Homo sapiens: one gene and its partners. The protein of the gene in region 3 purifies or fractionates together with the protein of the main gene of each other region. This does not show direct contact. Each region holds a gene or a part of one and is shown on either strand. Other genes may lie near its edges.

What was found.
Region 1: the proteins of SERHL2 (region 3) and CSNK1G3 purify together in Homo sapiens (affinity purification with mass spectrometry; 2 studies listed by BioGRID and IntAct, with this or other methods). This does not show direct contact.
Region 2: the proteins of SERHL2 (region 3) and GNB4 purify together in Homo sapiens (affinity purification with mass spectrometry; one large-scale study listed by BioGRID and IntAct). This does not show direct contact.

The regions. Positions count from the first base shown.
Region 1 is NC_000005.10:123,588,644-123,592,297, reverse strand, and holds part of CSNK1G3 (casein kinase I isoform gamma-3), read right to left. Parts: intron 1,889-3,654; coding exon 1,740-1,888; intron 980-1,739; coding exon 884-979; intron 1-883. UniProt on the Homo sapiens protein: Serine/threonine-protein kinase. Casein kinases are operationally defined by their preferential utilization of acidic proteins such as caseins as substrates. It can phosphorylate a large number of proteins. Participates in Wnt signaling.
Region 2 is NC_000003.12:179,441,326-179,444,979, forward strand, and holds part of GNB4 (guanine nucleotide-binding protein subunit beta-4), read right to left. Parts: intron 58-3,654; exon of another isoform or gene 1-57. UniProt on the Homo sapiens protein: Guanine nucleotide-binding proteins (G proteins) are involved as a modulator or transducer in various transmembrane signaling systems.
Region 3 is NC_000022.11:42,560,369-42,564,022, reverse strand, and holds part of SERHL2 (serine hydrolase-like protein 2), read right to left. Parts: intron 635-3,654; coding exon of another isoform or gene 554-634; intron 1-553. UniProt on the Homo sapiens protein: Probable serine hydrolase. May be related to cell muscle hypertrophy.

The DNA of each region.
Region 1 (3,654 bases), on a different chromosome or scaffold from region 3:
ACAAATTTGAACCGCTTGCTATTCCTCAAATTCTCTATTTTTAAACTTCTGCTTCATATTTTATATTATTCACTCTCCCCAAAATGCCCTTATCTTCATTTCCCTTTAAAAACTCCATTCATTCTTTAGGTTCATGTCAAAAGCTACCTTTTCCATAAAATCTTCATAGAGCCCCACATATGATCTCCATGCTACTTTATTAGTGTTTCATGTAATATAGCTTATTCTCTTTTTAAATATAGCTATTTCTGTATTTATTGTAATAATAATAACAGTAACAGCAGACACAAGAGTTTTGATTCAAAGCTTACTGTATGCTCTAAATTAACATGCATTATTTCCATTTTATAGATGAGGAAACTGAGGCTTTGACAGATTAACTTATTTGCCCAGGGTCAAGCCATATCCATGTATGCCTGATTCTAAAGAATTGAGTGAACTCTTAGCTACAACACTGCTTTTAGACACTGGTGACAAAATCATTCTTAAAGGTTATACAGTCTTCTTTACTTCTGAATTTCTATAATGTGTAGAACAGTAGCTTTACAATAGCAGAAATTCAATAAATAATTTATTGAACTAAACTACAGTTAGAAAGTCCAAGTGTTATTACAATTCATTCTAATAGGGTATCCAAATACTTCCATTCTAACAGAATATCACATATTCCTAAAAGTTTACACTAATTTGTACCATTAATTAAGGATTTATGATTAAACATTTTAATGCTATTATTAAACTAATAAACAGTGAAATTAAGAGAAAATAGATTATCTATTAAAAATATGTATTTTCAATCCTTCAGTCTGTTTTATCTATTGAAGAAAAAAGTGTATGTTTCAATCATGAAAGGAAGGTATTTCATATCTAAAGGGCAGCAAACCTGGTTTTTGGATTGTTGCATCTTATCTCTGTGTTGATGTGCTTCTCTGTTTGATGACAGAGCAGGATCTTGCTGAACTGCACCCACTGGAGTAGGCTACAATACAATAACAATTGGTATCAATACATTCCATTTTAAAATTCTTATTTAAAATCATTTAGCTGCTTAAAAGAATTAAGGAAAAAAACAAAAGACTGTTAAATAAACTAAGGCTTTAAGTAAAGGCATCATTATCAAAATATGTTGTTAAAGCTAAGAAGGTAAAGCAAAAAGAATATACCTACTTTTTAAAGTGTTTTTAAAATATTCAAATTCTTTATAAAGTACTTATTTTTACATCTACAGAACACTTAATGCTGCCATTACTTTTAGGCTACATTTTCATATCAACATGATAAAAATGTATATGTTTATGCCTCTCATTTCCAAAGCAAATGTATACATAGAATAAACTTTTAAGAAAATTAAAAGAATAAAAAAACTAATAAAATTACTTATTTCCAATATTTTGACTTGAAGAGACTCATACAAATTTTAATTTTCATCAAGGGATTGAAGTATTAAATTAATCATGAGAATATTACACAAAAAAGAGTATATTTGACATTAAGAACTAAATCAGGATGAAAAGTTAAAAGTAACTCTTCATGCTAAAAGGCAAAGAATCCAGATGTAGGGCTTCTGAAAAACTCAAAGAACACTAGTACGGCACTACCTGCAGAAATGTCCCTTAAAAAACAATAAAATGAATCCTTTAAAACAACTATTTGTTCTCAACTCTTTTCAATTGAAGATATTGTACTATTAAAAAGGCAACAGATACTGTAAGTAATATATTATTATATAGAATACTCACCAACTGTTTACCAATCCAGTCATATTCATAATCAAACATATATCCTTTTCGATCAAACAAGTCAGTAAAAAGCTTTCTTAAGTAGTCATAGTCTGGTTTTTCAAAAAAATCTAGCCTTCTTACATAACGAAGATATGTTGCCATTTCTTCTAGAAATAATATAAAAATTATTTGGACTATACTTTTCTTTAATACTCAGTAATAAAATTAAGTATCTAAAAGCACATTGTATTATATAAAAACACTTGAAAAGTAACAAAATTACATTGCAATTTAAATTTTTCTGAGTTTAATTACAACAAAATAAAAAAGAGGAAAAGAAGGAAGGGAATAGAGACACAAGAAAAATGGGAGGTTTAGTTTAACAACCACTATTTTTGCTTCATTTCATTAGGAAAAGCTAAAATTTTCATTTTTATAAGATTATTTTTAATATTTGGTAGTATGAGAAGTTGAATAAGCAGTTTAATAATGCATGATTAATCACAAAGCATCATATTCAGTTTATAAATTTAAAATTTTATTTAAAATACCGGTGAGAACTGATTTATATGAAAGCATCTGTATTGGCTTGCTGGATTTCCTTTAGAATCAGTGACATAAACCAACTAACTAATAGAGAATTCAAATTCCTAACCTTGGCTTTGAGCAGTATTCTAACCAATTAAGCTAACAAAGGAAAGCTAAAACAAATCTCAAAAACATAACACAAGAGGACAGTGTAAGTCTTCTCTTAATTTCTGGTCATATATTTAACAATTATTTGGCGATATACAAATCTCTGCATGCTATTATAATTCCAAAATGTATTAGATACATGTATCTAATACATGCAAAAACAAACAAACAGACAAACAAATATATAAATATAAAACAATGGGCAAAATGGTGAGCAATTAGTAAAGCAGGGCATTTCACCATCAGGGCACAGAAAATCACTACAGTAAGAGATGGTAAGTTACACCTAGCATTCACAGGCAGCCCCAGCCAACAGGAAAAAGATCACACCCAGCACAATGAGGCAACAAAAGTGGTGTGCAGTGACCTTCTTTAGGTGGTGACTCTCCCACTATTCCACTTTCTAGCTAAATACCTGGCTAATTTGATTTGGCAACCCCATTTTTCCCACCTTTATATAGGCTTCCTTAATGACAACTACCCTATCTGCCTACACTAAACTGCTAGTACTATTAACCGACATTTTAAAAAATCTACTTCTAGATATTATAGCAAGAAAGGAAAATATATAATTAAAGTTTGCTGTCAATGAATAATATAAACAAGCTTGAGAAAGAGCTACTTTTGTTATGTTGATAATATTATTATTACATTAATAACGCCAGCATTATACAGGAGAACTACGGAATACTAAAGTGAGATAGGAATTCCGTATTTTATCTTCAAATTTAGCTCTCTTTTCACTTAATGTGGCTGCACAAATAAATCACAGTCATTATCTTAATATACTAACAAGTTATTCTTATTCCTTAATTGATGTAGAAATCTTAAGTAAATTTTTTTTGGCTTAATTTGAGTTGCCATAAATCTACTTGAAAGCAAAATTATTTTCATAAATGCATACAGCTCCCCAATATAAAATTAGCCCCAAACTAGTGAGGTCAGTAAGGTTTTACTGGCCTTACTTAATTTAAGTTTAATTTGAAAACTAAACCAAATCATACTTCACATACCTCCTTTGAACTTGACATTGAGACCCAAATGACTAACACTGAATACCAAAACTTTGTAACTGGCATTTCTTAGCAAAAATTTTAACTCATTAAAAGTATATCACTAAAGAAAATATTACTTCAGCTGGTAATGATCAACACTATTAACAGACAGGATTTTCTTCTATTAATACCATTTGCAAAGCAAATACACAAAGTGTCCCTGTGGGTTCGGCATCAAATGC
Region 2 (3,654 bases), on a different chromosome or scaffold from region 3:
AGCCTATTGCTCCTGGGCTACTAACCCGTACTGCATACTCAACACTGCAGGCAATTTTAACACCATGGTAAATATTTGTGTATCTAAACATATCTAAATATAGAAAAGACAGTAAAAACATGGTAAAGCCAGGCATGGTGGCTCATGCCTGTAATTCTAGCAATTTTGGAGGCCAAGGCAGGTGGACCACCTGAGGTCAGGAGTTCAAGACCAGCCTGGCCAACATGGTGAAACCCTGTGTTTACTAAAAATACAAAAACAAACAAACAAACAAAAATTAGCCAGGCTGGGTGGCCGGCGCCTGTAATCCCAGCTACTTGGGAGACTGAGGCAGGAGAATCGTTTGAACCCGGGAGGCAGAGGTTGCAGTGAGCCAAAATCACACTACTGCACTCCAGACTGGGTGATAGAGTGAGACTCCATCTCAAAAAAAAAAAAAAAAATTGGGACCATCACCCTATATACAGTCAACTCACTGACTGAAACATCATTTTTTTGAGACGGAGTTTCACTCTTGTTGCCCAGGCTGGAGTGCAGTGGCACACGATCTCGGCTCACTGCAAACTCCGCCTCCTGGGTTCAAGCAATTCTCCTGCCTCAGCCTTCCGAGTAGCTGAGATTACAGGTGCCCGCCACCACGCCTGGCTAATTTTTGTATTTTAGTAAAGACAGGGTTTCACCATGTTGGTCAGGCTGATCTCAAACTCCTGACCTCAGGTGATCCACATGTCTCGGCCTCCCAAAGTGCTGGGATTACAGGCGTGAGCCACCAAGCCCGGCCGACTGAAATATCGTTATGGGGCTCATCACTATAATCATATTACAGTGTAAATGCTATGACAGAACTTGTATTTAAAGTATTACGTCATTGAAACCAAATGTTTATGAGAATGTGGCTGAACTCAACATACTAAGGATTTCTCTTAAATTTTACACAATACGTTTTGAAACTATTGTCCATGAATTCATTGAACCCATTTTTAGTATGCTTATATTTTCACCTGTACTACTTCTTAAAAGTAACAAGTTCTGTCAATTTACGTCAGCTCTGTAAAATAGCAGGGCATTTCCTTTTACTTAGTCCTAAAACTACCTTCTCTAAGAGGAGCCTCTTGGTTTTAGTACTCTAAGATTTTGTGAACTAAACATTAGAAACATAAATTATGATTATGTAAATTTAAAATCATACACTTAGCCTGTCTTTTCTTACATGACCCACTCAAGCATTATTATCTCTTGGATTTTTTTTTATACGACCACATGTAGTTATCTCTGTGTTACCAAGCCACAGTCCTATGTCACTTTTTTTTTTAAGAGATGGGGTCTTGTTCTGTCGCCCAGGTTAAAGCACAGTGGCACTGCCATCCTTGCTCACCACTGCAGCCTTGAACCCAGTGGCTCAAACGATCTCCGACCTCAGCCTACCAAGTTGCTGGAACTACAGGTATGCACCACCATGCCAAGCTAATTAAAAAAAAAAAATTTTAGAGGTGGGGTCCTTACTATGTTGCCTAGGCCTGTCTTGACATCCTGAGCTCAGACTGTCTTCCCATCTCAGCCTCCTGAGTAGCTGGGATGAAAGGTGTGATCCACCATACCCGGCAGTTTTGTATCACTTAAAGTCACATAACTTGCTTTTGTTTTACCAGAAACAACCCTTTAAATTTACCAGACTTGGTTATATATTATTTTTGGTTACATACAAAAATTTTAAAAATCAATCCCACCATTAAAGGGTTAGAATATGACAACTGGGGATATCAGAATTTCATCCAACAAATGTTTATGAGTGCCTCACAAGCATTACCATCTAGCTTATTTGCTAACTCCGCTTCATAGGACAAAATGTTAACATGTGCAATTACCATAGTCACGGAAAAGTAGCTACAATTTCTTATGTTCACAGCTTTAATAAAAGTAAAATATCTTATGGCTGGGCACAGTGGCTCATGCCTGTAATCCCAGCACTTTGAGAGGCTGAGGCAGTTGGATCACCTGAGGTCAGGAGTTCGAGACCAGCCTGGCCAACATGGTGAAACCCCATCTCTACTAAAAATACAAAAATTAGCCAGGTGTGGTGGTGCATGCCTGTAATGCCAGCTACTTGCGAGGCTGAGGCATGAGAATCTTTTGAGCCTGGGAGAAAGAGGTTGCAGTGAGCCGAGATCTCACCACTGTACTCCAGCCTGGGTGACTGAGTGAGACGTCTCAAAAAAACAGGTAAAATATCTTAAAGTTACCAATAAGTAGAAATAGAATACAGCATCCAGTGTCTTTCACTGTAGATTTCATTTTTCTTAACAAAGCCATAATGCCTACCTATAAGATAAAATTTTAGAGGTTTTAGTTAACAAGCAAGTGTACTTATGGTGATACTGTTCTGAGATGAGCAGATATCCATCTCTGCTACCTCAGGATGACACTTCATTTACAAAAATACTATACAATTACTGTCTCAGGTTTAGATTAGCAGCTAATTAATAACTGAAGTTATTTGGGATTCTATCCCATCCCCAATTCTCTACCCCACCACTAATGTTCTCGGAATCTATCATTCAAAGGGTCTTATCTCTACCATGCAGTTCGAATAGAATATTCATTTTTAGTTACATTTAGTCCCATTTAGTTTTGTTCTACTGCTGATTTTCCTATTCACGTTTTTATCCTACAACACTCTCTATCACATATACCAAGACTGCTCTTCAATGCCTTAAGGGAACACACAATCCCCCCGATTCTTCAGCATCCTCTCATAATCTGTCTCATCATTTCTAAAACCTTTGCAAAGATTTTTTTGCATTAAAAGGTGAGTCAACACATAAACATGAATGAAATTTACATACTAACCTATCTCTATTTTCTTTATGTCTTACAGCCAGGAGGAGTCTGTGGTTTTTTCATTTTTTTCCCCCCAAAGAGTTTCCCTGGTGATATATTCAATAATTAATGAACCAAATGAAATCTCCTGTTCATAAATTTTAATTCCCATAGTAAGGTTAACACAAACCATGAAAACTAATATCTAAGTTTAAAATTTTTAATTACTAAGTTTTTTGTTTTTTAGACCACACGGCAAGGAGATCACATTTTTCAGGGTGTTTTTTTTTTTTTTTTAACCTCTCAACCGCTTCCCTAGAGCCCTTTTAATACGTAATACAGATAACTAAGATCCCTTGTTGACAAATTTCAATTTCCTCAAGTACTTAACTGCCTACCATGTTCCATTTAAATACACAGTTTCATCGGCACGGTGGCATGCACCTATAGTCCCAGATACTTAAGAGGCTGAGATGTGAGGATTGCTTGAGCCTGGGAAGTCAAGGCTGTAGTAAGCCATGATCGTACCACTGCACTCCAGTCTGTGTGACAGAGAGAGACTCTGTCTCAAAAAGTATATACATGCATACATATATAATTTAATTTGCAGAATTCTAGAATGTCTTAAATTATTTCCTTATAAAAACTAGCCACGGTAAGCCTTTTTAACTATCCTAAACATAATGTATATAATTTACGTCACATGCCAATTAGACATAAAACCTCATTCAGCTTAAGCTGCCTTACTGGGTTTTTAATTTCACTTACCAAGTAGTTAATGACAAATTTTCATATTTTAAACAATCTCTGGGTAAAGGTGTTTAGTTGAAAAACTGA
Region 3 (3,654 bases):
TCAGCTCACTGCAACCTCCACCTCCCGGTTCAAGCGATTCTCTTGCCTCAGCCTCCCCAGTAGCTGGGATTACAGGCATGCGCCATCACGCCCAACTACTTTTGTATTTTTAGTAGAGACGGGGTTTCTCCATGTTGGTCAGGGTGGTCTCGAACTCCCAACATCAGGTGATTCACCCACCTCAGCCTCCCAAAGCGCTGGGATTACAGGCATGAGCCACTGTGCCTGGTCTAGAAATCTGTATTTTTACATAAAATCTTTCTATTTAAAATAATAGCCCTTCTGCTCTGGTCCTTGGGCCCTTCCTCCAAAAAATAAAAAGAGTATAATAAAAAATAAAATGTGGGCAATCTATTCAAAATTCCCCCCATGCCAAATGTTTTTGATTAAACTGCACAAGTTAAACAAATTATTATCTGCAACCTGTATGCAGTCCAGCTTATGAGAAAGATTTGAGCCTCCCCCACAGCACGGGGCTTCAGGGGCCAGATATTTTTGTTTTGTTTTTAAGACAGGGTTGGCTGGGCATGGTGACTCACACCTGTAATCCTACCATTTTGGGAGGTCGAGTCAGTAGGATCGCTTGAGTTCAGGAGTTCGAGACCAGCCTGGGCAACATGGCGAAACTCCATCTCTACAAAAAAATACAAAAATTAGCCAGGTGTGGTCTGCACACTTGTGGTCCCAGCTACTCAAGAGGCTGAGGTAGGAGGATCGCCTGAGCCCATGAGGCCAAGGCTGCAGTGAGCCATGGTCACGCCACTGCATTCCAGCCTGAGTGACAGAGCAAGACCCTGTTGAAAACAACAACAACAACAAAAAAAAAAAAAAAGAAAAAAAGAAAAAGCCAGGGTCTTGCTAGAGTGCAGTGGCACAATCAAGGTTCAATGCAGCCTCCGACTCCTGAGCTCATGTGAGTCTCCCACTTCAGCCTCCTAAGTAGCTGGGACCACAGGTGTGCCACCATGCCGTTTATTTTTGAATTTTTTGTAGAGATGGGGGTGTCTCCCTATATTGCCCAGGCTGGTCTTGAACTCCTGGCCTCAAACAGTCCTCCCACCTGGACTCCCAAAGTGCTGGGATTACAGGCATGTGTGAATACGCTTGGCCAGGGGCCAGACTGACACAGACTGTCCCTCTGTCCTTAGGGCACCCCAGGCAGAGTGGGCCCCTCCCTCCTTCATGGGAACACCTCAAGATGGTTTCCAGAAAGCCAGTATTGTGGGGCTTAAACTTAGATGAGAAGATAAAGAGCTCATCTCTGCTGCTCTCTCCCCATCCTGCACCACCAGCTCACACCTCCAGGCCTGTCCTGCCAGCTCCTTTCTCCTCCTGGAGTCCGTAGGAGCAGCTCCCGTACCTTCACTGCTTTGCTCAAAAGTCACCTTCTCATGAGGCCCACCCAGACCTTCCTATTCAAAAGAGGAAGTGGAGCTGCAGCCTCTCCAACAATGCTCGCTGCCCTCCCCACTCTGCGTCCTCCACGAGCCCTCCCCTTCTCACGCACTCTGTAACCCACCCAGAGAACCTCACACACAAGCCAACGGGCTCCTGAGGCTCCCAGCAGCCAGAGAGGTGGGAACAGATACTCCCTCACAGCCCTCAGAAGGAACCAGCCCTGCCGAGGCCTTGACCTTGGACCCTGAACTCCGGAACTGTGGGGGAATGTGTCTTGGTTGTTTAAGCTCCAGATTCTGGAGGAATCAGGTTGGATGATGGGGGCAGGGAAGGGAAGTTATCCCAGTTCAGAATAGAATGTGAACTCTCAGGGGCCCTGGGGTTGGAGGGAAGCATTTGGGAGGAACCTACATTGTCCTTGAGGCACTGGGTGGGGGGTTCTGGCTGGGTACTGTCTTCTTTTAGGTTAATGCTGGGTCCCAAAAGGCCACAACTGCTGCAGAGGGCTTGTCTGCACACAACGTTCCAGCCAGCTGACCACTTCCCCCAGACCCAGGGTTCACCTCTTTCTCAGCCCTCCCTCTTGCCTGTTCCCTCACCCCCCTGACACCCACATAGGGGTGCCTGGTCAGCATCCTGCATTCACTGTTTCCTGTGACCTGGGCCTAATCGAATTCCCCGGCCTCATTCCAGATTAGCTCACTTCTGTGCCTGGGGCTCCCTAGGTCAGCCATCCGTGAGGCATGTCCAGGAAGCCTGGGCCCGGGGTCCTTGACCTCCCCTCCCCATGATGGGTTTCCAGGGAGGCAAGATAAAGGTTCAGCCAAGATGATCACGAAGACCCAACTGGTCCCAAACTGGCGACCCGAGGCCAAAACAGCCCACAGGTGCCGCTCCTTAGACCCTCGGGGGATGCTGTCCATTTCTGGACTCAAGACAACTAAAAATACTCACCTCAGCAGATCAACTGCAGAGCTGAGCAACTGGTAATTCTGGCCACACGAGACTGAATTCCCACTTGATTAGCACCGGCCCAGCTGCCTACCAGGGTGGGCTGCCTCCAGCTCCAAAGTCCCTACACAGCCCATAGCCTCCCTCCCGGCCTGCACCCTCAACTCCACAACACGCCCCCACCCCCGCCCCCAGGTGCTGGAGTTTCTGACCCCCTGCCTCACTCAGCACTTTATAAAGGGAAGGCACATGCCCACCTCACCTGGTCCAATGAGCGCAAAAAACCCAAGACCTTGTTTGTCACCTGAGCAAACAAGGGGAGTCTAAAAGGGAAGGGACTGTCCCAAGATCACTGAGCTGGCAGTGTCAGGAAGCAAAGTTGTGTTGCCCAGCTTAGCACATTTTCCATCCGACGACACCATCTCCCTCCAGCTGTTCCCTCACCCTGGGAGAGCTGCTTCCTGGACCACTGCTCTGAAGCAGGCCCCGCCATGAGTCTCTTCTAGAGCACCATGTATTTCCTTCATTACATCTAGAGAATGTCTAACCACTCATGTGCCTGTTCACCTGTGTATCATCTGCTTCTCTTCCAAGAATCTAGGCCTCTGCCCAGACTCTTCCTTACTCAACTCCAGGGGGCGCCATTTGTGCACAGCAGCCCCTGGAGTTGTGGTGCGGGAGGTCTGGCCCCACTGAGAGAGGGACAGTCGGCTCTTGCTCACTGCAGCCTCACTGAGCCGGGCCTGTAGCAGGCCCTTACAAAAGATTTCCTGGGCCAGGCACAGTAGCTCACACCTGTAGTCCCAGCTACTCAGGAGGCTGAGGTGGGACGATCTCTGGAGCCCGGGAGGTGGAGGCTGCAGTGAGCCATGATGGTGCCACCGCACTCCAGCCTAGGTGACAGAGCGAGACCTTGTCTCATAAGAAAAAAGAACGAAAGAAAAAAAATTCCTGGGTAAAAAGCAAAGTACACAAATCGCTTGTGCCAGAAGCTGCTCTGAAACCAAGACATACCAGCTCCACCTCTCCATTGTGAAAAGCCTCTCCCAAGTCACTCAGCCCCTGGGACGTCCTCACAGCCTGCCTCTGGCGCTGGGCACCCACCCCAGATCCAGCAGAGCATGGCCGTGACATTCACCAACATTTAGTCCAAGACACCTGACCAAACTCTCCCAGAGCGTGGCTTTCTGGGATGTGCAGTAACTGTATGGCCTCACCCGGGTTGCTTGGCAATGCTGAGCCTTGGTTTCTCCTGCTCTAAATGGGATGAGGGTGAGGCAGGAGGGGGATTCAGTGAGATGCTGT